Regions from separate parts of the Homo sapiens genome. Here all the other regions are reported to be linked to region 1. The links are microRNA targets in miRTarBase. Many come from high-throughput screens and were not tested one by one. Region 1 holds a microRNA gene; each other region holds the end of a gene's coding sequence.
Evidence for each region. The annotated mature microRNA hsa-miR-30a-5p reads UGUAAACAUCCUCGACUGGAAG and lies in region 1 at 2,239-2,260, shown strand. An mRNA with a match to its seed (bases 2 to 7 or 8) in the 3' UTR can be bound and repressed. Matches are read on the target gene's strand: a 7mer-m8 pairs with bases 2 to 8, a 7mer-A1 pairs with bases 2 to 7 and ends in A, and an 8mer does both.

Region 1 (4,089 bases):
TCAGGTCATGGCAAGATTTTTTAGTCTTAAACTTATTTAGCTCAGTCCTTCTAGATCAATGGTTCTCTGCCCTGAAGGTGTAGCAAAATTGTTTGATAGCTTTTGCAAAATTTACATACCCAGCAGCCTCCCCATCAGCTGAATAAGAATTGCAATGTGGATGTGGCAGAGGCAATCAGGTATGTGGGGTTAGAAGAAGCTGTCCTGGTCATTCTGTTGCCACCCTCTCACTTGGAGAATTGCTGATCCAATGAATTCCTTAACATAACTTTGAAAACACAGCGTTTTGCTCAGAACTTCATGAATAAACATCAAATTTTCACTAAACAAAATAATTAAAGACCATAAGATCTTAGTTATAATACTTCATAAATGGAAAAGCACTTTATTGCCTGTATGTATGTGGGCTCCTCTTTTAGCAAGATATGAGCTAGGTGAAGTCTATGTGAAAGCTAAAGCAGATTTATTCCAGTCAGATGCCAGACAATTTTACCAGTTTAACTGAGACTCATTATTACTTAAACTACATGCTTGTTTTTTTGGTTACTGAGTAGTATAGGTCCCACTTGGATCAGCAATTCTCAAAGTGAGAGGGTGGCAATAGAATTATTTAAGTAATTATTTGTTATTTGAGGTTGTTTGCTTAGTATTTACTTGTCACTGTTTTACATGTTATTTAATAATTTACAGTTATTTAAAAGTGGTAAGATTCCAAGGCAAGTAGGGGACCTGTCACTTTGAGAAAAATTTATGGTGGTAAAAATATTTTCTTTTTGTAAAGAGTCACTGATATACAATGTCCCCCCAGGGTGTAAGCCTTGGTATTTATCTATTTTAATTAAAGAGTACTCTGCCTGTCTAGTCGTGGCTAACTTAAAAGAAGTGGGTATCTTGGTGAGAAGTTCACAAGGTTGGTAGCCATAGCTGAGTTTGGTGGATTGACTCAAGCTCTAGTCAGCAGTGGTATATGAATGCCAAGTACTAAGAATTTCTGGAATGTAGAATTGCACAGCACTGATAAAGTTTGCTTTGTTCCCCTGTGTGACTTGACCCATTGAGAAAACTGGTTCCCTAGGAAGTTTTAATAGTTCAAAGTCCTTAGTTAATAAAGAAAAAGGCCACAACATAATTCAGCTTGTTTTCACCTGCTGACTCAAAGATTAACTTTTTTAACCTTAATGGGATAGAGTTACCCTTTGCTTTGAGAAAGTAATTTATGGAGTTCTTCATATTTGTTAGTTTCAGTAAACATGATGCTTTTTGTGTGGATTTTATTTTTGTTTCGGGTTTGAGATCACAAACTACTAAGACTTACACAATTTAAGAACCTTACGGTAACTTCATCTAAAAACAAATCTCAGGGAAAGGCACACCCACTTTTCTGTATCAACTTAATCTTTCACTAGATTCAGAATGGTTTTGAATTACTTCAGGAAAGTAGTGACTGATAGAGCTTAACCTTCAGTTTTCCTCATTTATTTTCATAAGAGAATGGGAGTGGAATTCAAAACATTCAAATTTGGAGTTAATGTGCGTCACTGTTGTGAGTGATAGGTTCTGTGTTTTTCCAGTGGGAAACTTTGATCCACATACTGATATATGCCTGTGTTATACCTCGTTATTCTTTTCTGTTTTTCTCCTGATTGTTGCTTACTCTTTCAAAAATCAGCTGACTGTACAAGTCCTCTCTGGGAGCAGACTTTAGAGCAAAAGTGATCTATAAAAGCAGCATGTAAGTCTTTTTTTTTTTTGTCAGAGTTTATAACTTTCCAAGTAGACCTTTTATATTTTCACGGTAGTCTAAGTTCACTCAACTGCAGTATTTGATGTTAAATGTACGCTTTACGCTGTTAAGATAATTTAGTTTCTGTGTTTGGTCACTTTTGCTTAAAGGATTGTAATTACATAATGCATGTTGAAATCATATTAAGTAACCTGGCCACTTGCCTATTTACTTCTTGTGGCTAACAATAATGAATGAAACCATTTATATATGTTGTTTTAGTATATCACAAAATTTTATAGAAACTAGAAGCTCGGTGATGAATAATAGACATCCATGAGCCTTCTTATTTGTTTTGAATTTGAGACATTTTCTAGAATATTGCTGTTTGAATGAGGCTTCAGTACTTTACAGAATCGTTGCCTGCACATCTTGGAAACACTTGCTGGGATTACTTCTTCAGGTTAACCCAACAGAAGGCTAAAGAAGGTATATTGCTGTTGACAGTGAGCGACTGTAAACATCCTCGACTGGAAGCTGTGAAGCCACAGATGGGCTTTCAGTCGGATGTTTGCAGCTGCCTACTGCCTCGGACTTCAAGGGGCTACTTTAGGAGCAATTATCTTGTTTACTAAAACTGAATACCTTGCTATCTCTTTGATACATTTTTACAAAGCTGAATTAAAATGGTATAAATTAAATCACTTTAAAACCATGTCTGTACATTTTTAGAGGGCTTCAGCAGGGCATTGAGGAGGTGCTCTGTGTATGCATAGAATTTGCAATATCAAAAAGAAAGTATTCGTAAGAGAAATGAGGAAATGTGTTACAGTATTTTTATTTTTTTTAAAAGCGTAGTAGGGCAATATTTCCCAGAAAAATCTATGAAGTGATTTGTTTTGTCCTGCCCTTTCTGCAGTTTCAAAATAGGTGTTTTTTAGACCCATTCACAAAAAAAAAATCCATTAATGAAACCACAATTATTTGGGGGAAAAAAGTAAGATGAAGGGTTAGTTATTTTCACATTACTTGGATTAAACCCCTTTTATTTCCTTATAGGCTTAGTGTTTAAGTAATAAAGTAGCAGCTCTCAGCTTAATAAAGTGTCTAAAACAAACAAATACTGATTCAACTAACTCTATTATTTGAAAAACCTATTCTTGTTTCAGATGATTAGAATAGTATTTTAGGAATTTGTGGATACTGTTTCCATTTGGTTGAACTTTTAACTTAGCTTTATGCAATAACTCATATCTCTTAAAAATAATAAATACATCAAATTCTATCCTAAATATATGAAGACAATTTTAAGATTCAGAATCCTGTAGAAGATTTCTGTGATGGACATAATTTCTAATTTTCCTTTTTTGTAAATGCGTATTTTTCTTATGGCGGATATTTTTAATATTATACACTTAAATAGAAATATTTAAGTGTATAAGAGAAATATTTAAGTGTATAATAGAAATATTAAGGATACACTTATATAGAAACTAGACACTTTAAAAAGATATGAAAGTGATATCTTTTGTCCTCTAAAACACAGTATTTTATAAATATATAGTGTTTCCATTAATGTAAAAGAGTTTCTTTTCCCTGTTTAATACCCATTGATGATGATGATAAAGAAGTGATACTAAAACAGTATGATCATACCACTATTTAAAATAGTAGCATTTCTTCTAATACCTGGGATGGAGAGAAATATGTGTTAGAAATGTCTTTAAGTTTCCCTCATACATAAAGCTATCAAAACTCTATTAGTCATGCTGGGCCATGAGAGGTTCATCAACTGCCACTGAAATGCAAGGGGCTTGGAGAGGCCTCTGCCAGGCCCTGGGTCTGGAACTGAGAATGTGGTCTATTTTAATTGGTAAGCTGAAAACCCCTGGAGCAAATAACTCGGCTGTTTTTCTGGGGTCACCCGACCGTATTTCCTAGGTAAATGACTATAGGTTTGAAGAAATGGTTAAACTTTTCCTAAATCTTTGACCTTCACTTTCTTTAGGTTCTCTTCCTATGTTATTTTATATCCTCTTCCTTACCTTACTGCCCCTAAATTTTCCATTTTTCATTTTTATCTGTTCATTTTGTTCATGTAAATAATTAGTTATGGGAACTTTTTAATTTGTAAAAATTACAGCATTTTTAATTATTTTTAAATCAACAAATACAAACCTCCATAAGCCATTCCGGGTAGTTTCAAAATTAATACCTAGTATTTCTTATGTCTTGTGCCCCACATTTCCACAGTAATAATGTAAACTACTATTTTAAAGTAACATCAACAGTCCAGGCACGGTGGCTTACGCCTGTAATCCCAGCACTTTAGGAGGCTGAGGCAGGTGGATCACTTGAGGTCAGGA
Region 2 (4,089 bases), not on the chromosome of region 1:
AATCTTAACTAGAGGTCCTCCTGCTTTATCTTAACTAGATTCGTGTGAGGGATGACAAGATGCCTTTGGCGCACCTTGCAATAGCTGTTGAAGCTGTTGGTTGGGCACATCCAGATACAATCTGTCTCATGGTTGCAAACACGCTGATTGGCAACTGGGATCGCTCTTTTGGGGGAGGAATGGTAAGTGATTTTAAAAGAAATTTTCCATAACAGATGGAAGATTATCATGTTTTCTTAAATATAAGTTCTTTGTAAGAATCCTTTTTTAAAGTGGCAGAATAGAGTCTTGTACTGTGAATTCTGACTTAAAAATATAAACTGATCCTGGATTGCATGTGGGCCAGAAAAAGTTTCTTTTTTTCTTTGCCACAAAGTTTATTAGTGGCAAAATTTGAATAAGGACAGAATTAGCTAGAAGTACTATGTCAATGTTAATATCCTAATTTTAATAGTCAGTAGGCCCTCTATATCTGTGGGTTCCATATCCGTGGATTCAACCAACCATAGGTGGAAAATTTTGGGGAACAAATGGATGGTTGCATCTGTACTAAACATGTATGGACTTTTTTTTTGGTCACTTCCTAAACAATATAGTATAACAACTATTTACATAGCATTTACATGGATTGGGTATTTATCTAGAGATGATTTAAAGTATACAGGAGAATGTGCTTATATGCAAATATTACATATACCATATTACATGAGGGCTCTAGCATCTGTGGATTTTGGTATCCACAGGGATCTGGGAACCAATTCTCCACAGATACTGAGGAACTATACCAAGGTGATGTAAGAACATTAATTTCCTTGTTTTTCACAAGTACATACTAAAGTATTTGGGGCAAGAAGCATCACATCTAAAACTCAGTTGAAAAAACTTGTATAAAGAGAATAAAGCAAACATGGTAAAATAACAGGGAATCTAGATAAATGAAATTCTCTGTACTGTTTTTGCAACTTTTTTGTAAGTTGGAATTATTTCAAAACACATTGTATAGATTTGTCTTTACTCATAGATTTCTCCAAAATACATTTCATCTAAATAATCTTAAGCTTCATATGCAATATAACTTTGAATCTTTAAGCGTATGTAGCCAAGAGTCCTAGAAATTGGGTTGATAATAGCCATCTAGTTTTAGAAGTAGGTATAGCTACTACATTAATTATAAGGACTCATTGCTTTTATAACATGAATTTCTCCAGGGGGTGCACTGGGTAAGTGAGATAATAAACACAATTCTTAGTCATACTGAATTTTAACTCTACTACTGAGATGTTGAATAAAACTAGGAAACAGCCTCTAAGGATATTCACTATTTTCCACACACTCCATTTTTCTTTCTGTATTTTGGACATGTATAATTAAAATTCTCTTGGAATTTTTTTTTCCTTGCAGAATTTATCTAGCAAGCTGGCCCAGCTCACTTGTCATGGCAATCTTTGCCATAGCTTTCAGTCTTTCAACACTTCCTACACAGATACAGGATTATGGGGACTGTATATGGTTTGTGAATCATCCACTGTTGCAGACATGCTACATGTTGTTCAAAAAGAATGGTGAGAAAAATAGCTTTAAGTAATTTAAATTTTGCCTTTAATTCGTTTTAAACTAGTTTTTTATTTATACTTTATGGTGATTTATGGTAATTTTACCTTTTAATTAAGAGACCTAGATAAACAGTAGTTGCCATGTTTTCAAAGGTTGCAGTTGGTTTTTCCTAAGTCTCAAGATGTGAAGCTGATTTATACTATAGAATTTTTTTTTTTTTTTTTTTTTGAGATGAGGTCTTGCTCTGTTGCCCAGGCTGGAGTGTAGTTGTGCCATCTCGGCTCACTGCAGCCTCCGCCTCCCAGGTTCAAGCCATTCTCCCACCTCAGCCTCCCGAATAGCTGGGATTACAGGCGCACCACCATGCCCACGATGCCTGGCTAATTTTTTGTATTTTTTAGTAGAGATGGGGTTTCACCATGTTGACCAGGCTAGTCCTGAACTCCTGACCTCAGGAGATCCACCCTTCTCAGCCTCCCAAAGTGCTGGGATTACAGGCGTGAGCCACCACACCTGGCTGAAAGTTTTAATCTTTCAGAAGCAGGTTAATTCAGAAAGATGATCCTAAAAGTTTAAAAGCCAACTAGAAGTTGTTTGGAAAATATCTCTGAAAGTAATCTGGTTGAAGGGAAAGTAAATCTGAAGTTGCCACTGCTAAAAGAAAACAAAGTATATTGAGTCGATAGATGGGCAGAAAGGCTCGCAGCTTCTTGGAAAACATTTAGCTCTGGTTCCTTTCCTCCACTATTCTTAATTGGTTTACATCTTTCTAAATCTAGTCAACTAGGATGTAATTATTGTTAAAAATTAGATTTAAGTTAGACTCTACTCATTGTTTTCAGAAACCAATGAATGACCCACTGACTTAACCCATAGCATATCAGACTCCAACAGATGAGGACTCATGAAGTCTCAAGATGCTTATAGCATTTCTGAAAATGTGATCAGCCCATTTGTATAAAGCCTTTGTCTGCTAATGTGTAATTAGGCATGTTTATGTATCATTTTTGAGAAATTAATACTGGGGAAAATAATCATTTTAGCTTTTGCTTAGCATTGGAATTAAATTGTAATCACCTGTATGTTTTGTGTAGAAGATGGCATCATCATTCTTAGGTCATTAACTCATGAAATACAACATTTTCCAACTACTACTGTTTTTCCACGTTTTTTAGGATGCGACTCTGTACAAGTGTCACAGAAAGTGAGGTTGCACGAGCCAGAAATCTTCTGAAAACAAACATGTTGTTGCAGCTTGATGGTAAAAATAAAGATATAGGTTCTGTTTTCATATGGTTGATCTGTATTCCAATAGTTAATTTTTCCTTCTCTTTAAACAGGTTCAACTCCAATTTGTGAAGATATTGGTAGGCAAATGTTATGCTATAATAGAAGGATTCCCATCCCTGAGCTTGAAGCAAGAATTGATGTAAGTAGTCCTGAGTTACTATTGGGTCATGTGTAAAAAGATCCTTGTTACAAAAGCTGAGAATATGTATCTTTCATCTTGCTTTAGTTTTAAAAAGTTCCAGGTATAGACTTTGTTTTTACTACAAACAGCTGAATGACAGTGTCTTCCATATTTCAGGCTGTGAATGCTGAGACAATTCGAGAAGTATGTACCAAATACATTTATAATAGGAGTCCAGCTATTGCTGCTGTTGGTAAGCCTGGCTTCTTTTCTTCTATGCAAAAAGTTGGCCAAGTACTTTTAATTAACTCTTCTTTTTAATCCTTAGGTCCCATTAAGCAACTACCAGATTTTAAACAGATACGCAGTAACATGTGTTGGCTTCGTGATTAAAATGCTCCTAATCAAGATTGTTTGAACACATGTATTTATAAAACAGAGCTAGAGAAAAATAAAAATGAACATGTATATACATTTGGAAATTTGAATTAAATACTGTATCATACTTTCAAAGGATAAAAAGACTACCCCTCTGAAGGTTGTTTTGTATTAATGGTCAGTCTTTGTTCTCTGAGAAATTATGTTGGAAGCAGCATACTTTCAAATTATTACCATGAGTATAATTTTAAGAATGAAAATGTTTACAGTATTTTCAGTTTTATTATAAAAATGCACACACAACAAAGATTGTCATTTCTTGGCTCTACTTGCATTCAGCACTTGTTCTTGAGCAGCTTTCTTTGCTTTTACCATCTCGACAAGTTCCTAGGAAGGGAGAAAGGTGTGATTTAAGAAGTTGCGATTTAAAAACAGACATTTTAATCTAGTGTTTGGTGTAAAGAATTCAAGCAACTAAGATAGATAGTACTAAATATACTGATTTCATTATCTGCCAGGGCCTAGAAAGTTTCTAAGGTTGCTCATTTCTTCCTCATAATATTGACCCCATAACTACTGGTTTTGAAATAAGCACTATATTATTAACCACTTAATAGACATAAAATATGAGCTATATCACCCAAGCTACAATTTAAAATACAACAATCTATAAACGCTTAAGTCTGCAACCTTGTATCGTTTCATGCAGTCCTTCTTTGTCCTGCCAGGCACCGCTTCTGCTATTT
Region 3 (4,089 bases), not on the chromosome of region 1:
AAGAGGTTACAGTCCACATCAAATTAAGCATGCCCTAAAGGGCAGCTGGGGTTCAGTTCAAGAGTTGAGTTTTAACACACACCTTTACCTGCCTTAAAATTGGGCAAGGTATCACAACGTTAAACCATTTCTCACAAGGCTCGTTGGTGATGTTTAAGATTTTTTGTTTGTTTGTTTGTTTTTTGTTACGGAGTCTCGCTCTGTCGCCCAGACTGGAATGCAGTGGCGCGATCTTGGCTGACTACAACCTCCGCCTCCTGGGTTCAAGCGATTGTCCTGCCTCAGCTTCCTGAGTAGCTGGGATTACAGGCGCCTGCCACCACGCCCAGCTAATTTTTCTATTTTTAGTAGAAACGGGGTTTCGCCTTGTTGGCCAGGCTGGTCTTAAGTTTTGCATCCTGGCTCCCTCCTCTTACCTAGTCCCAGCCTCTTGTCTACAGGACAAAGCAACTTTCTGCAGTTTTCTGTTTGCTCTTTAGAGAGACGGGGCCCTAATTTGGCAAAGTGGTAGGGGAGACAGGGCTGGTGTTTAAGGTCGACCAAAGCAACATCTAAATCTCTGCTCTTCCCCCAAATTGTCCAAATTAGCAGCAACAGGTGTGCACCTTCCAAGCTTGCAACAGACCACATTCAGAAGCTTGATTTCTTGTTGTTCTGGGAATATCTGGATCAGAGGTAACATGGTTCACTAGGACTCCTCAGCTTCACCCAGTGTCCATTTCACCTCCCCCGGCCTTCCAATGTCTCTTCTTGCAGATTTCTCCAAGCCACTCTCCCCGTCATCTCCTCCACCCCCAGGACCCAACTCCTGCCCCTCCCACCCTAGCCCCTGTTCTCCCTGCCCACCTCCTACCCCACTGGAGTGGCCTTTCATCAAACCTAAACCAAAGAAACCAACAGACCTTGCTGTCACCACTACTCCGGGACCTGGAAGTTAAAGCGAGGGAGAGACGGTGAAACACAGAAAGCAGAACGCCTTCTGTTCTTCCACAACACAGGGTTTGTGGACGTGGCCACTATAAGAACTCGCACTGCGTGCTGATTATACTCCTCAGCACAATTCATTTCTTAAACTTTTTAGAATAATTTAAAATTTACAAAAAGTTGCAAAAATAAAAACCAGTAAACTTTTCACCTTCATCTGCCTTATAATTAAGGCAGCGGGCAGCGCGCTGGACAGAACGGGAGGGGCTTGCGCTTTCCGCCGGTGGGAAACCCCACCCGCAGGGACGAGCCGGGACCATCTGGCCCTACCTGCCGAACGGCCGCTTGGTGGAGATGTGTCCCAGAACCGAAGGAGGAGGGTGCCACGCACATTTGTCTTGCCTTCCCCGGTGGCGGGGGCATGGCAAGGGCGGAGCTTCCCGCTGTGCCCTTGGAGGCCGCCTGCAACCAGGCTAGTGTAGGTGGGGACGCACGCCCTGTACCCTACCCATCCTGCCCATTGCGGGTCTGGCCCGGACCTGAAGGGCAGTAGTTGGGGCCGTCCCCGCGTCTTCTGGGCCCTGTAGTGAATACAGTCTGCCCCATTCAAATCCTTTTCCTCACTTAGGATTACTGCTGTGTGTCAGTGTCACACACCCCAAATTGATAATGGCTTAAGATGGGATTTCTCATTTAAAAAGAAGTCTTTGGTTGAGTGAGCTGGGGCTATTTTGGTGTTTCCACATGGGACCTAGGCTCCTTTTAGCTCAGCACTATCCTACGTCTAGGGTATGGCTGAGCTGTTCTCTTGGCCAAGACTGAGCCAGAGCCCGTGGTCAGGTCAGCATAACCTTTCCAGGCAGCAGGATAGAGTGGGAAAGAAAGAAGGGTCTGTTGAAGGAAAATTCCCCCAAGTTCAGTCCTACTTCATTGGCCAGAACTTAATCACATGTCAGACCTAGCTACAAATTGAATGAGAAAGTCAAGTATTTAAGGTGGGTCCCTTATCTCTCAAAACACTGGGCTTCAGATAATAGAGAAGGGAAGGGGTGTCAAGAGGAAACGGCTACCTGTGTCACTGTGCTTATCAGGATTCTTACCCTTCTCAAAATTTCCCATTGCAGTATCTTGACTACCCTATCCCAAACCTAGCACACTTTTACCAAAGACAACTTAACTGGGGAAGCTGCAGCATGGCAGGCACATCATCTATTGGTCCAACTTCTATAGGGTTTTCTATTCTTTACATTGAAGAAATGCAATTGGGTTTGGCCTTTAGGATCAGTAACAGCAGCTTCTGGTTCTGATGTCCTCCATCCTAGTTTCAGTGCTTCTTCCTCTCAGAATCAGTGCTGATTCACTTTCTCTTTATCAATGAGTTTAATATAGTGGCTTCATTTATAAGCAATTAGCTAACTCTAGTATTTCATCTGTTCTCATCATTTAATTCTCAGCTAAGGTGCTAAGGTAGGGCCCAGCCATCTGTTAGGTGATTCTGCTATATCCTAAGGTGATGTATCCTAAAAGACACCTAGGGTGCTTTTAGAAACTGCCCATGCCCAGCCGTATCCTCAAAGATTCAGGCAAACAATTAGCCGGGTGTGGTGGCATGTGCCTGCAATCCCAGCTACTCAGGAGGCTTAGGCACGAGAATTGTTAGAACCCGGGAGATGGAGGTTGCAGTGAGCCAAGATTATGCCACTGCACTCCAGCCTGGAACAAAACCAACCCCCCTACCCACCACCACACACACACACACACACACACACACACACACACACACACACACACACTCAAGCATGGTTGGGTCTGGAGTATGGCCTTGGCATAGGTAATTTTCAGTGTCCCAAGGGATTCTAGTGTGCATGGGGCTGTGAATCACAGCTCCAGGTGGGCCAACTATGTGCACACTGGTGCCTGGGGTAGGTACTAAGCCCTGATCCTCACCCCTGTGCGGGTGCTTCCTATTATGCTTTCTGCCTTTAGCCCTCCTCCTCCCTCACAACCTGGTCAAACACATCAGACAGGGAAAGAAGCAACATGTGTATTATTAAATTATTTGTCAGAATTTCCAGAATCAGAGTCTCTACTGGGCAAGTAGAAAAATAGAAAAGTTTACTACTTTGAAAAGGAAACTATGACAAACAAGTATATATTCAGGAAAGGGACTCCTAGAACTTGAGCAACAAAAAAGAGTTCAACCTCGGCACAGTGGAGTCTGCAGTGTCTCCGCAACAACAGAAATGAACTTGTGTTCCTCACATCCTTGAGAGTCGAGGTTTGCATTTCTCTACAGAGCTAGGGCTGAATGAAGCAAAGAGACCTCTGCCACCCCCACTAGCTGGCCCAGTCCTGGAAGCGGAAGCAGTCACTTGCGATCTTCCACACTGTGTTGCTGGGTGAGGCCTGGGCGGTCAGGATGAAGTTCTGGTTGAAGTCCCGTTGTTTGTTCCCCTCAAACTTCACTGATCCACAGATGACAACAAGGACCGTGGTCTGGCTTGGTGTGGCTTCATCATGAACAGGCTGGCAGTCTACCACGCTGATTTGGAACTCGCTGGAAGGCAACATTTCAAAAAACTCACTCAAGGATTCTTGTCCTGAAACAGCATTGCCATTCCAGACCAGGGTGGCTGTGCCCATGTACAGGCGGGACAGCAAACGCCGCCGCTTATCCATGGTGGTGTAGTAGACATTGACAAACTCCTCAGCAGCTCTGCAGGCCTGATCCACATAGGTCTTGAAATCCACAGATGCCATCTCTGGTTCTATGGAAGGAGGGCTCCACCAGGGTATTTCCTCTGCCTTGGGGAACCAGGGGCTGCAGGGAAGTAAGGTTGAAGAGAAGCCACGTGAATGCCAAAGTTCATTCTGCCCTGACAATGGAACATTCCTCCTTTTCTACTACTGGCAAAATAGTTACAGACTGCAGAACAATGACTGTAGGCTCAAATAGTACCCAATGCCTAAAAATGCCTAATTTTACTAAGACTCAGTTTGCTCACTGTTAAGATGGGATTACCACTGTGGCAAACTGAGATAGTATACCTTAAGTGTTTAGTTTAAAAACATTTAGTTATAGTCAGCACTCCATATCTGAGGGTTTTGCATCCACAGATTCAGCCAACCTCAGGGCGAAACCTGCAAATACGTTGGGCTGACTGT
Region 4 (4,089 bases), not on the chromosome of region 1:
AAGAAGACAAGTGTGCTGGGTGGGTGGACACCAAGTCCCTGAGAAGGAATCCCAGCAAAGGGGCAGCAGCTCCACCTGCTGGGCCCTTTTCCACCCTGGCACCAGGAAGCAGTTAGAAATCAGAAAAAGATTGGCTAGGAGCAGTGGCTCATGCCTGTAATCCCAGCACTTTGAGAAGCCAAGGAGAGGTGGATCGCCTGAGATCAGGAGTTCGAGACCAGCCTGGCCAACATGGCGAAACCCCGTCTCTGCGCCTGTAATTCCAGCTACTAGAGAGGCTGAGGCAAGAGAATCGCTTGAACCCAGGAGGCGGAGGTTGCTGTGAACCAAGATCGCGCCACTGCACTCCAGCCTGGGTGACAGAGCAAGACTCTGTCTCAAAGAAAAAGATGAACTTATTCAAGAATAAAGCTAGGGCTTGACACTCTCCTGCTTTGGTGGGAAGGGCCCTAGGATGCAGCAACAGACTAAGACTGAGCCAGGCTTACTGAATTCTCTGTTGGACAGACCTGAAGGGTCCACATCACCATAGAACTGCTGTTTGGAGACTTGGTTTGTACAAGAGACCTGAGCCAAACAAGTCCTGACTCAGAAAATCCCTCCAGCTCCATAGGCTGCCCACAGCCCCCTTGGCACAGCTAGAGCAGTATGCCACCAACAGCCCAAATCACCCCTAGGCCAAAAAGGGCGGCTAAGCAAACAATACTCTTCCCTCCCCAACAAGCCAAGAGTCTAGGGTCCCACTGAGTACCAAAGCGGCAAAGCCCTGGCCAATTCTCAGAATACATGGGGCTGGGGCCTGTCTTTGCTTAGTCACAGGGACAGCCAATCTCTTTGCTTAAAATCCTTGAGTCTTGGAGACAGCACTCAGTGTAACAGCAATTCAGAACACCCAGCTCCCCTTACAGCACTCCGATTACCTTCAGCCTGGAACTCACAGTACACCAAAAGGATGCACTTTCCTGCTCCATTTGGCCTGGGAGTGTGGCTCTTCAAACGTCACTGTTTGTGCTCCTGTGCCAGACGGTGTGTAGGTATGCCTGTACCTGTTTATGAGGCCTGAGTTATATGTGCCTTGTGCATCTGTGAACATGAGATTCCATGAGGCGAGCCTACCTTCATGTGGGTGTGTGGTTCGTGAGAAGGCATTTAGGTCTATTCCCTATCCTCTCCCCCACTTTCCCACCCAGCAGGGGCAAGAGACGGAGCAGCAGCATCCAGCTGTTTGACCCCAGGATCAGACTGCTGCTTAGTCTGCTCACTCCCCTGTCTAGTATCACTATGATGAGTCCCTTCCCTGGTTTGATCCTCAAGTCTCTAAAACTTTCAGCATTGACTGAGCTCAGCACCTCCCCAGAAGGGAGTGCATACACACAATGGGAAGCATTTCCTTCCTGAAGGCAAAACCTACTGGTTTCTGTTTCCTGACCCTTCTTGCTGTTTTCCAGGGCCCCTGATTTAAATTCCACTGGGTACACCCTGAGGAAACAGGCTTCTAGTCTAGGCTTGTACAGGAAGCTCACAGTCATGGGCACTTATTAAGCATTAACAATTTTCTTTTAAAGCCTTACAATCCACACATGGCTGTTCTCCCTCCTTGGTGTAAGGGCTACGCAAGCCCCCCAGAACCCCGCTCCCTGTTCTCCCATGTTTGCTCTAAGCATGTTCAGTCCTGTCCTTACTGTCCTTGGCCTATAATCCTGATATGGGCAAACAAAGGAAGGAGAGAACCAGAGAAGAGAAAGAAGCTGGCCAACACACCCAGGGGTCCATATTCCCAGAGTGAAGGTCTGCACCAAGCTATTCTAGCCTTGGAATTGTGAGTTGGCATGGAGTGCAGAGGACAGAGACACAGCCAGGCCTATACTGATTTGAGCTTCATCAATAAGGAAGAGGTGCTCCCGTAGGTTCCTTGTTCCAAGAGTTTCTATCTGCAGCTGTTAAGTAAGAGAAAAAAATTCCTCCTTGGATAATTTATGAAGCCACCTGAATAGCCAATAAAAGAAGAATGAGTGAGGGTAAAATCAGTCTATCCACTAGATAAAACACTATGCAATCATTAAAAATAATATTTATTTTAACGTTTACTCTAGCATATATTACTGTAAAAAACTTTTGTGATGTAACAAACTGGGAAAGAGCTAATGATTTAATTAAAAAGTAGGACATCGGCCGGGCGCGGTGGCTCACGCCTGTAATCCCAGCACTTTGGGAGGCCGAGGCGGGTGGATCATGAGGTCAGGAGATCGAGACCATCCTGGCTAACAAGGTGAAACCCCGTCTCTACTAAAAAAATACAAAAAAAAATTAGCCAGGCGCGGTGGCGGGCGCCTGTAGTCCCAGCTACTCGGGAGGCTGAGGCAGGAGAATGGCGTGAACCCGGGAAGCGGAGCTTGCAGTGAGCCGAGATTGCGCCACTGCAGTCCGCAGTCCGGCCTGGGCGACAGAGCGAGACTCCGTCTCAAAAAAAAAAAAAAAAAAAGTAGGACATCAAATTGTTTACTGTAACTATAAAACACAAAAACATGGACAAAAAGTGATGCCTCGTTTTACAAAATGGAGGAAATCAACTAGACTACTCACAGTAATTGTCCACCTCCACAGCTCTAGCTCCTAGCACAGTTAAGCATGCAATAAATATTTGTTATTATTGAATAAGCACTGGGATTAGGAATGAATTAATCTACTTTCCAAATCTGCTGTAATGAGATCCTATGTTTCATAACAAAAAAAATTATGGGCTGGGCATAGTGGCTCATCCCTGTAATCCCAGCCCTTTGGGAGGCCAAGGTGGGAGGATCGCTTGAGGCCACGAGTTCAAAACCAGCCTGGCCAACATGGCAAAACCTGGTCTCTACAGAAAATTTAAACATTACTCAGACATGGTGGCACATGTCTGTGGTCCCAGCTACTCAAGAGGCTGATGCAGGAAGATCACTTGAGCCCAGGAGTTCAAAGTTGCAGTGAGCCATAATCACACACTGCACTTCCAGCCTGGCAACAAAGACCCTATCTCAAAGAAAAAAAAAATTAAGTATATAAAAATAAGACTAATTTCACAATCCAAAAACAATTACAGAAGGGAGGGAGATTTAATGTTGTCCATAGAAAGACATTAAATGTCAGACTGACAATTTAGTTATGGTTACAAACCGGAAAACCATGCCATTTGGAGTAATGGAATTTGAAGTTACTAGAAAACGACAACAGATTTTTGATACAGAATGACAAGGCTTATCTATAACACGTCAACGTTTTCGACGACTCTGAAATTTATAAATAGCTGGGGAGTTCACCGTTTCTTTCTTCACCTTCACTTTCTGAGTTTTATCCTACAAAAGAGTAAAAAGGTGATCAGTAAAGAGAAGGAAATGGTTTTGTAAAATCGAAAGGTTAATAAACTACCTATTAGCACCTGCTTCAGCCCTTCTCAAAGTTGAGAACGGACACAGCCCTACTGCCCAAGGCATCCACTGTAGGCAATGAATTAACTTCTCCCCTAGGCATCTAGAAAGTACTAGCTGTGTACAGTCCTAGGAAAACTGAGAAGAAAGGTGTTCAAGTAGTTGTTTCATTTAAAATTATAATTTTAATTCTCTCACGGAACCCCAGTTGAGAAAGGCTGACCTAAATGATCTACAAAGCTAAAGAATTTGACATTTAGAGGAATGATAAGAATATGAAAGAGGCATCTTATATTCCTCAGCTCTGCTATTTAACTACACAATGTTGTCTATTTTTAAACACCAATGAGTGACATGCACTGTTTTGTTAACCTGTTTAAATGTTACGGGAGCTGCTCATAAGCTATAAAGTTCATATGCTACCCGATCCTACCCTTTGCTGTTCCAAAGCACTGACTAATAACCCCCTTATTACCTCCTTAATCAAGGCGCATTTCAACACTGTCAGAGTAACAGACACTGGCTCAAACCACTGCCCCTGAGGAGCAGACATTTTCACTGGGGTTGATTTACACACAGCTGAAATCTAGTCTGAGTTAAGACCTTTACAAGAAAGAAAAGGGGGAAAAAAAAAAAAAGAGGCCTAAGGCTCTCTCTCCTCACCATAAGATCTTTGCGTGTTTGA
Region 5 (4,089 bases), not on the chromosome of region 1:
TAAATGAATGTATGTGGTATTTCAGTAAAGTTTGATTTGCGAAAGAGACAGTGAGCTTGGATTTAGCCCTTCATCTACAGTTTGCTAACCCAAGTGTGCACCCTTTAAGCACCTTAGCTTGATACGAAGAACCTCGCTAGCAGGAGATGCTGGTAAAATAGAAATTGAAGCTCATGTGGTGACTAACTTTAAAGTCATTTTTTATCATATGCACACATTTGCAAGGTAGTTAAAATTGCATAGGATGTTTAAGGTGCCACCCTGGGTTTGAGAGTGTGTGTTTGTTTAGCTTTTTGGTGATTTTATTATAGGGGTCAGCTGCTGTGCTACAACGTCGGTCAGAAAATGAAGAGTTTGTTGAAGTGGGAAGATTGGGGCCTTCTGATTATTTTGGTATGTATGAATTCCCTCACAATAAATACATGGTTTCTTTAAGTCACCTCTCAGTGAGATATTGTAGTCTTCCATAATTTTGTCTTCTCCTGAATTTTATTTTCTAACTGCAGTCTTTTTTGGCTCTGAGAGGGAAGGTGTGAGATTTTGATCTTTACTCATTTAATGAAATTACTGATTGTCTCATATCTATTGTCTTCTTTCTCAGAAGTGCACTGCTTTAAGGAAATGTTTTTCATAGAAGTTAGCCTGTTACCCATCTTTGCTTTCTCCAGGTGAAATTGCACTACTGATGAATCGTCCTCGTGCTGCCACAGTTGTTGCTCGTGGCCCCTTGAAGTGCGTTAAGCTGGACCGACCTAGATTTGAACGTGTTCTTGGCCCATGCTCAGACATCCTCAAACGAAACATCCAGCAGTACAACAGTTTTGTGTCACTGTCTGTCTGAAATCTGCCTCCTGTGCCTCCCTTTTCTCCTCTCCCCAATCCATGCTTCACTCATGCAAACTGCTTTATTTTCCCTACTTGCAGCGCCAAGTGGCCACTGGCATCGCAGCTTCCTGTCTGTTTATATATTGAAAGTTGCTTTTATTGCACCATTTTCAATTTGGAGCATTAACTAAATGCTCATACACAGTTAAATAAATAGAAAGAGTTCTATGGAGACTTTGCTGTTACTGCTTCTCTTTGTGCAGTGTTAGTATTCACCCTGGGCAGTGAGTGCCATGCTTTTTGGTGAGGGCAGATCCCAGCACCTATTGAATTACCATAGAGTAATGATGTAACAGTGCAAGATTTTTTTTTTAAGTGACATAATTGTCCAGTTATAAGCGTATTTAGACTGTGGCCATATATGCTGTATTTCTTTGTAGAATAAATGGTTTCTCATTAAACTCTAAAGATTAGGGAAAATGGATATAGAAAATCTTAGTATAGTAGAAAGACATCTGCCTGTAATTAAACTAGTTTAAGGGTGGAAAAATGCCCATTTTTGCTAATTATCAATGGGATATGATTGGTTCAGTTTTTTTTTTTCCAGAGTTGTTGTTTGCCAAGCTAATCTGCCTGGTTTTATTTATATCTTGTTATTAATGTTTCTTCTCCAATTCTGAAATACTTTTGAGTATGGCTATCTATACCTGCCTTTTAAGTTTGAAACTAACTCATAGATTGCAAATATTGGTTAGTATTTAACTACATCTGCCTCGGCTCACAAATTCCGATTAGACCTTTATCCAGCTAGTGCCAAATAATTGATCAGATGCTGAATTGAGAATAAGAATTTGAGGTCTACATTCTTGGTTGTTAATTTAGAGCGTTTGGTTAAAGTATGTCCTTCAGCTGACTCCAGTATAATCTCCTCTGCTCATTAAACTGATTCCAGGAGATTGGATTTGCTGTGACTAGATACAGATGGAGCAAATGTCCTAACAGAGAAATAGAGGTGATGCTGCTAAAGGGAGAAATGCCAGGCGGACAAAGTTCAGTGTCGGGAATTTTCCCCGTGACATTCACTGGGGCATGAGATTTTGGAAGAAGTTTTTTACTTTGGTTTAGTCTTTTTTTCCTTCCTTTTTATTCAGCTAGAATTTCTGGTGGGTTGATGGTAGGGTATAATGTGTCTGTGTTGCTTCAAATTGGTCTGAAAGGCTATCCTGCTGAAAGTCCTGCTTTCCTATCTAGCATTTATTTCTCTGGCAAACTTTTCTTTCTTTTCTTTTTTAAAGTAAACTTGTGTATTGAGTCTTAACTGTATTTCAGTATTTTCCAGCCTTATGTGTTACATTATTCCAATGATACCCAACAGTTTATTTTTATTATTTTTTTAAACAAAATTTCACAGTTCTGTAATGTAGGCACTTTTATTTTCATTGTGATTTATATATAAGGTAATGTAGGGTTATATTTGGGAGTGACTGCAAGCATTTTTCCATCTGTGTGCAACTAACTGACTCTGTTATTGATCCCTTCTCCTGCCCTTTCCCAGGTAATTTAAATTGGTCATGGTAGATTTTTTTCATAGATTTGAAAAACTTTTAGGTTGTTACCAAGTATGAAGTATAAATCTGGGGAAGAGGTTTTATTTACATTTTAGGGTGGGTAAGAAAGCCACCTTGTTACAAATTTTTTAATTTCCAAAATAATCTATATTAAATGAGGGTTTCTGATCTGTACTTTGTGTTTAGCTACCTTTTTATATTTAAAAAATTAAAAATGAAAATTACGTTCTTACAAGCTTAAAGCTTGATTTGATCTTTGTTTAAATGCCAAAATGTACTTAAATGAGTTACTTAGAATGCCATAAAATTGCAGTTTCATGTATGTATATAATCATGCTCATGTATATTTAGTTACGTATAATGCTTTCTGAGTGAGTTTTACTCTTAAATCATTTGGTTAAATCATTTGGCTTGCTGTTTACTCCCTTCTGTAGTTTTTAATTAAAAACTTTAAAGATAAGTCTACATTAAACAATGATCACATCTAAAGCTTTATCTTTGTGTAATCTAAGTATATGTGAGAAATCAGAATTGGCATAATTTGTCTTAGTTGATATTCAAGGCTTTAAAAGTCATTATTCCTGGGCTTGGTAAGTGAATTTATGAGATTTACTGCTCTAGAAAGTATAGATGGCCAAAGGACCGTTTTGTATTGCTTCCTGATTACCAGTCTGATTATACCATGTGTGCTAATATACTTTTTTTGTTATAGATTGTCTTAATGGTAGGTCAAGTAATAAAAAGAGATGAAATAATTTAAATTCTTAAATGAATCAGTTTTTCTTCCCTTTCTCCTTTCCGTCTTTCCTCTCTCTGTCCTTCCCCGAAAGTCTACTCGGGTGGGCAAAAATGAAAAGGGGGAAAGTGAATTATGGGATCGGTGTTTTGAAAGAGCAATGTTTATTTTCAGTGCTTTTCAGTTTGTCAAAGAGTGGATCTCAAAATCTTGCTTAAAGGGTAATTGAGATGTAGCAGATTTATTTACTTAGTCATGGAAAGAAAAAAATTCAGTCAAAAGCTAAAGATTTCCTTTTGATTGAAGACAGATTGGTTCTGTGGCCTTGGAACTTTCCCAGACTTAATGGGGAAACATCATTTCTAGATTAGCATACTCTTTGGTTTAAATTTAATATATACATTTAATGTTACTTAGGGATACTTTTATATTTTGCATATATAAAGCCTCATATATAAAGCCTTATTTCTGATGCTCTTAGATTTCTGAGGAGTGAGATGATTAAGTTGTATTCATTAGTGTATTGGTATTTCTTCACATCCAGTGAAATTGGAGATATGTTGTATGTTAGAAGAGCATTCTTTAAATTGTGTTGCTTTGAACATGTGTACCTTTTCTAGATTCAGTAATCCCTTCCCCCCGTCCTCTGGAGTATGAAACCTTTAGAGTCACAATAAAATGTAACTAAAGAAAATTTCTCTGGGTTGACAGTCCTGGTTATAGTTGAATTCTCTCTAAACAGTGGCCCAAGTAGACTCTTTTTTTTGTTTCTTTTATTTTTTAATGATTTAAATATTGACATTTAAAAATTGAAGTAGCATGTCAGTTTTCTTCATACTACTTTATCTCTAACCACAAATAATAGCTGAACCTTTTGTACTTATGTTAGGCCCTGGCAGTGTATGTTTAGATGGGCTAAGACAACATCAAGAAGCAATGGCTAGATAACCATTTAATTTG
Region 6 (4,089 bases), not on the chromosome of region 1:
CTTCTAGGTTAAGGGGTCCAACGGGAACAACACAGAAGTCCCTTGTGGAGCTGACCCCGTGGAGGAGACACTTGGGGACTAAATGACACATTAGACCTGGGCCAGGTTCTCACCTTCCACTGGCCCCAGACCCACCTCTCACGCCTCCTGGCCCTCCTCTCTGCCTGGAGGCTGACCTGGACGTCCCCTGACTTCCAGCTGAGCTCAGCAAGAGGCTGGAGGGCGGAGGAGAGAGAAGTCAGGGTGCCTGGAGGCCGGGGGACGGAGGAGAGAGAGGTCAGGGTGTTGGCTCCGGGGCTCCCTCTGCTCTGATGGGGTTCTTACCCTTCAGAGACCTCAGCTCAGCCGGGGTGGCCTCTCCTGTAGCTCCAGTTCTCACCAGGGTCCAGCCCTCCCACCCCTTCACCTTCAGTGCTCCAGGACCCCTTAATTAGGCCCATTCCTGCCATTCGACCCTCTTTGTTGACCCCTCCCCTGAAGGCACAGTCTCCTGAAGTGGGTGCTGAGTGCTGCACAGAAAGCAGCTCTGGGAGGAGAGTTCAGAGCACGGGGGGCCAGGAAGGGTCCCCTAGGGTGATGCCGTCGGATATCTGCAGGGAGGACACTCAAGTGGAGGGCATTCCCCGGGCCCCAATGTTCTAGAACATTAGGGACGTGGTGTGGACGGGGCATATATAACAAGAGGATATGAAGGACAGCGTGGCACGGGAGCAGATGCCAAATTGCATGTGAGGAGCGGCCAGGCAGCTGTGGGAGCCCAGTGAGGAGACAATCGCACGGACGGGACGAGGAAGACCCGAGGCAGCAGCAGACATGAGGGGTGCTGGGCTGTGGGCGTGTTCTGAAGGTGCAGCTGGCCAGATTTGCTGTCAAAGCAGATGTGGACCTGAGGGGAAGAAAAGCCCCTGGTTGTGGGCGGCAAGCCATCCAGGTGCCGAGGCAAGAGACCGAGGGCACGAGCTGTTCCAGTATAATAAAATATATAAAACAACAGGAGTTATACTAGATATAGATCATAGACATGATTATATATGAATATCATTAATCATTAGTTATCCGGAGGCCTTACCATCTCCCTGTGATGCTGTGCTTCAGTGGTCACGCTCCTAGTCCACCTTCATGTTCCATCCTGTACACCTGGCTCTGCCTTCCAGATAGCAGTAGCAAATTAGTGAAAGTATAAAAGTCTCTTGATATGCAGAAATAATGGTGTAAGCTGTCTCTCTCTCTCCCTCTCTCTCTCTGCCTTGGCTGCCAGGCAGGGAAGGGCCCCCTGTCCAGTGGACACGTGACCCACGTGACCTCACCTGTCATTGGAGATGACTCACACTCTTTACCCTGCCCCTTTTGCTCTGTATCCAGTAAATAACAGCGCAGCCAGACATTCGGGGCCACTACCGGTCTCCGCGTCTTGCTGGTGGTGGTCCCCCGGGCCCAGCTGCCTTTTCTTTTATCTCTTTGTCTTGTGTCTTTATTTCTACACTCTGTCATCGCCGCACACAGGGAGAGACCCACCGACCCTATGGGGCTGGACCCTATACCTGGTGACCCCGGCTGTTTGCCCTGAGCACCTGGGGTGTCGTGGTTGGCATCACCAACCTGAGGGATGTGGAGAAGCAGGGCTGGGGGTCAGGAGCTCAGCTCCGCATGTGTGGAGTTGCAGGTGCAAGCCAGGCTGTGTTCAGGCAGCCTCCCAGGAACCACACCCCAGAGTCCGCACCACAGGGCTTTTCCCTCCCTGCCTGCATCTGCACTGGCTCTGGTCTTGCTTGAACCCACTGAATATGGGACAGTGATGCCAGGCCTGTGATTGACATGGGTCTGGCACACTTAAGAATCAGTGACGGTGGCTCACGCCTGTAATCCCAGCACTTTGGGAGGCCAAGGTGGGCGGATCCTGAGGTCAGGAGATGGAGACCATCCTGGCTAACATGGTGAAACCCCATCTCTACTAAAAATACAAAAAATTAGCCGGGCATGGTGGCGGGCGCCCGTAGTCCCTGCTACTCAGGAGGCTGAGGCAGGAGAATGGCGTGAACCCGGGAGGCGGAGCTTGCAGTGAGCTGAGATTGCGCCACTGCACTCCAGCCTAGGCGACAGAGCGAGACTCTGTCACAAAGAAAAAAAGAACCGGTGCCATGTAAGACGTGGTTCCAGCCTCCGCCCCACCATGCGAGGGGTCGGCCAGGCAGCCGTGCGGAGGACAACCCCAAGAGTGAGATGTCAGAGCTTGCAGCTGGCCCCTCCCAACATTGTGAGGAGCAGAAGGATCCAGCTAACACGCTGTGTCTAGAGAAAGGATCCCGTGCTGTTTCAGGTAGATTTGGGGTGATTTGTTACACAGCAGCAGCCGGCGGAGGAGACACATCCCCGGCCCCATCCATGTTGGGGGTGTCAGGGCCAGAACTCGAGATGGCGGCCTCTGGGGCCTGCAGCCCTCGCATCTGAAGCTGGGGCCCGCAGTGCACACGGCCTGTCTTCTTCTGCGCCCATTGCCAGGTTGAAGGGTGATTCAAGAAGAAGGGGCCGCTCTCAGGGTACCACTGGGCAGAACCTGGGAGACTGAGGCTGCTGATGCCCCTCAGCTCCAAGGGGCGGGGTGGCAGGGAGGCGACTGTGGAGGGCTGGGCAGTCGGCCTCTCTGGGCTCCAGGCTCTGTCCCTGTAGGAGGATGTGGGGAACCAGGTGAGCGGCTCCTCAGGCCATGCCCTGTGTGGCTGGACACCAAGTATCATGCACCCCAGGAAGGGGCTGCCGGGGGCGGGAGGACTGATACGTCCCTCCCGGCAGCCCAGGCCTGCGTCCTGTGGCCGCATCTCCCTGACCTCAGCAGCCCCTCCCAGGGCCCAGCCCCGAGACACTAAACACACCGTCTTTTTCAGGGAGCACTCGGGGCCCCCTTCCCTACCTCCCTGGTTGTGACCCGAGGCTTCAGGTCTGATGGCAGTTTCCACCGCAGGAGGGACCACCTGCCCCAACTTTCAGCCTACAGACAGGTGGGAGAAAAGTCTGGGGTGCAAGCCGCTCTGTGGGAGGCCAGGGAACGAGTGTGGGGTTATTTCCAAGTCGGGAGGGCTGCATCTTGAGGTCTGGAATGAGGTACTTCCCGTTCCTTCTCCCGGGCTTCCCGTTTCCGGGGTCTCCCCACGGGCTGTGCCTTGAGACACATTCCGGCCCCCAGCGCAGGCCTCTCTCAGCCGCCAGCCTGGGAGAGGATGAGCTCTTCTTGCCTGTCCACCCGGGCCTCCCTGTCAGCCCCTCCACCTACTGGACACAACTTTCCAGAATAAAAGGACATCTCTGGCACCAAGCAAGGGTATCTGACAGCAATAGATTTATTAAGTATCCCCGAAAATATAAACACAAACCAGTAAAAAACAAAACCGTAAAACGTCAGGCCTGGAGCTGCAATAAGACAGAGACAGGAGCAGCTCACACGTGGCCTAGGTGGGGAGGACGAGGCCATAAATACTGCAGGAGGGCGGCAAGGGAGCCCTAGGGCGAGGGGAAAGCAGGGTGTCGGCAGCAAGATGGCTCCGGGGGTTTAGACACTGCTGGCTTCGGCCCCGGCCGCCACCTGCCTCTCACTCCAGCTGCGAGCAGCTTCACTTGGGGCCCTGGGCCTCCGACTCCTCCTCGTCGTCTTCGTACATCTCGCCCTCTTCCTCGGCCGTGGCGTCCTGGTACTGCTGGTACTCGGACACCAGGTCGTTCATGTTGCTCTCGGCCTCGGTGAACTCCATCTCGTCCATGCCCTCGCCCGTGTACCAGTGCAGGAAGGCCTTGCGCCGGAACATGGCCGTGAACTGCTCGGAGATGCGCTTGAACAGCTCCTGGATGGCCGTGCTGTTCCCGATGAAGGTGGAGGACATCTTGAGGCCGCGGGGCGGGATGTCACACACGGCCACCTTCACGTTGTTGGGGATCCACTCCACGAAGTAGCTGCTGTTCTTGCTCTGGATGGCCAGCATCTGCTCGTCCACCTCCTTCATGGACATGCGGCCCCGGAACACGGTGGCCACCGTCAGGTAGCGGCCGTGGCGCGGGTCGCAGGCGGCCATCATGTTCTTGGCATCGAACATCTGCTGG

Region 2: the mRNA of DNAJC2 is a reported target of hsa-miR-30a-5p. The part of its 3' UTR that is shown has no 7-base or 8-base seed match.
Region 3: miRTarBase lists NXT1 as a target of hsa-miR-30a-5p. The part of its 3' UTR that is shown has no 7-base or 8-base seed match.
Region 4: miRTarBase lists UTP11 as a target of hsa-miR-30a-5p. The part of its 3' UTR that is shown has no 7-base or 8-base seed match.
Region 5: miRTarBase lists PRKAR1A as a target of hsa-miR-30a-5p. Seed matches in the 3' UTR shown: 7mer-m8 at 2,809-2,815.
Region 6: miRTarBase lists TUBB3 as a target of hsa-miR-30a-5p. The part of its 3' UTR that is shown has no 7-base or 8-base seed match.

What each region holds. Positions count from the first base shown.
Region 1 is chr6:71,401,766-71,405,854 of GRCh38, reverse strand. MIR30A (microRNA 30a) reads left to right here and starts at 2,234; the gene lies at 2,234-2,304. RefSeq lists an enhancer at 3,238-3,766.
Region 2 is chr7:103,308,914-103,313,002 of GRCh38, forward strand. DNAJC2 (DnaJ heat shock protein family (Hsp40) member C2) reads right to left here. Exons shown (of 17, transcript NM_014377.3): 16 at 4,034-4,089; 17 at 3,376-3,730. The coding sequence ends at 3,656. PMPCB (peptidase, mitochondrial processing subunit beta) reads left to right here. Exons shown (of 13, transcript NM_004279.3): 8 at 39-182; 9 at 1,402-1,562; 10 at 2,730-2,815; 11 at 2,895-2,983; 12 at 3,143-3,218; 13 at 3,294-4,089. The coding sequence ends at 3,358. Among named protein-coding and RNA genes, the nearest start is that of PMPCB, 14 kb to the left of the region's middle.
Region 3 is chr20:23,353,637-23,357,725 of GRCh38, reverse strand. It overlaps NXT1 (nuclear transport factor 2 like export factor 1), which reads right to left. Exons shown (of 2, transcript NM_013248.3): 2 at 2,955-3,745. The coding sequence starts at 3,684. The coding sequence ends at 3,262. It overlaps LINC01431 (long intergenic non-protein coding RNA 1431), which reads left to right. Exons shown (of 3, transcript NR_109884.1): 2 at 589-675; 3 at 757-1,132. Among named protein-coding and RNA genes, the nearest start is that of LINC01431, 2.4 kb to the left of the region's middle. RefSeq lists an enhancer at 84-173.
Region 4 is chr1:38,022,788-38,026,876 of GRCh38, reverse strand. UTP11 (UTP11 small subunit processome component) reads right to left here. Exons shown (of 8, transcript NM_016037.4): 7 at 4,068-4,089; 8 at 2,057-3,332. The coding sequence ends at 3,249. Among named protein-coding and RNA genes, the nearest start is that of UTP11, 12 kb to the right of the region's middle. RefSeq lists enhancers at 1-108, 275-774.
Region 5 is chr17:68,529,609-68,533,697 of GRCh38, forward strand. It overlaps PRKAR1A (protein kinase cAMP-dependent type I regulatory subunit alpha), which reads left to right. Exons shown (of 11, transcript NM_002734.5): 10 at 312-393; 11 at 669-3,823. The coding sequence ends at 841. Among named protein-coding and RNA genes, the nearest start is that of PRKAR1A, 19 kb to the left of the region's middle.
Region 6 is chr16:89,935,321-89,939,409 of GRCh38, reverse strand. TUBB3 (tubulin beta 3 class III) reads right to left here. Exons shown (of 4, transcript NM_006086.4): 4 at 3,313-4,089. The coding sequence ends at 3,606. Among named protein-coding and RNA genes, the nearest start is that of DEF8, 11 kb to the left of the region's middle.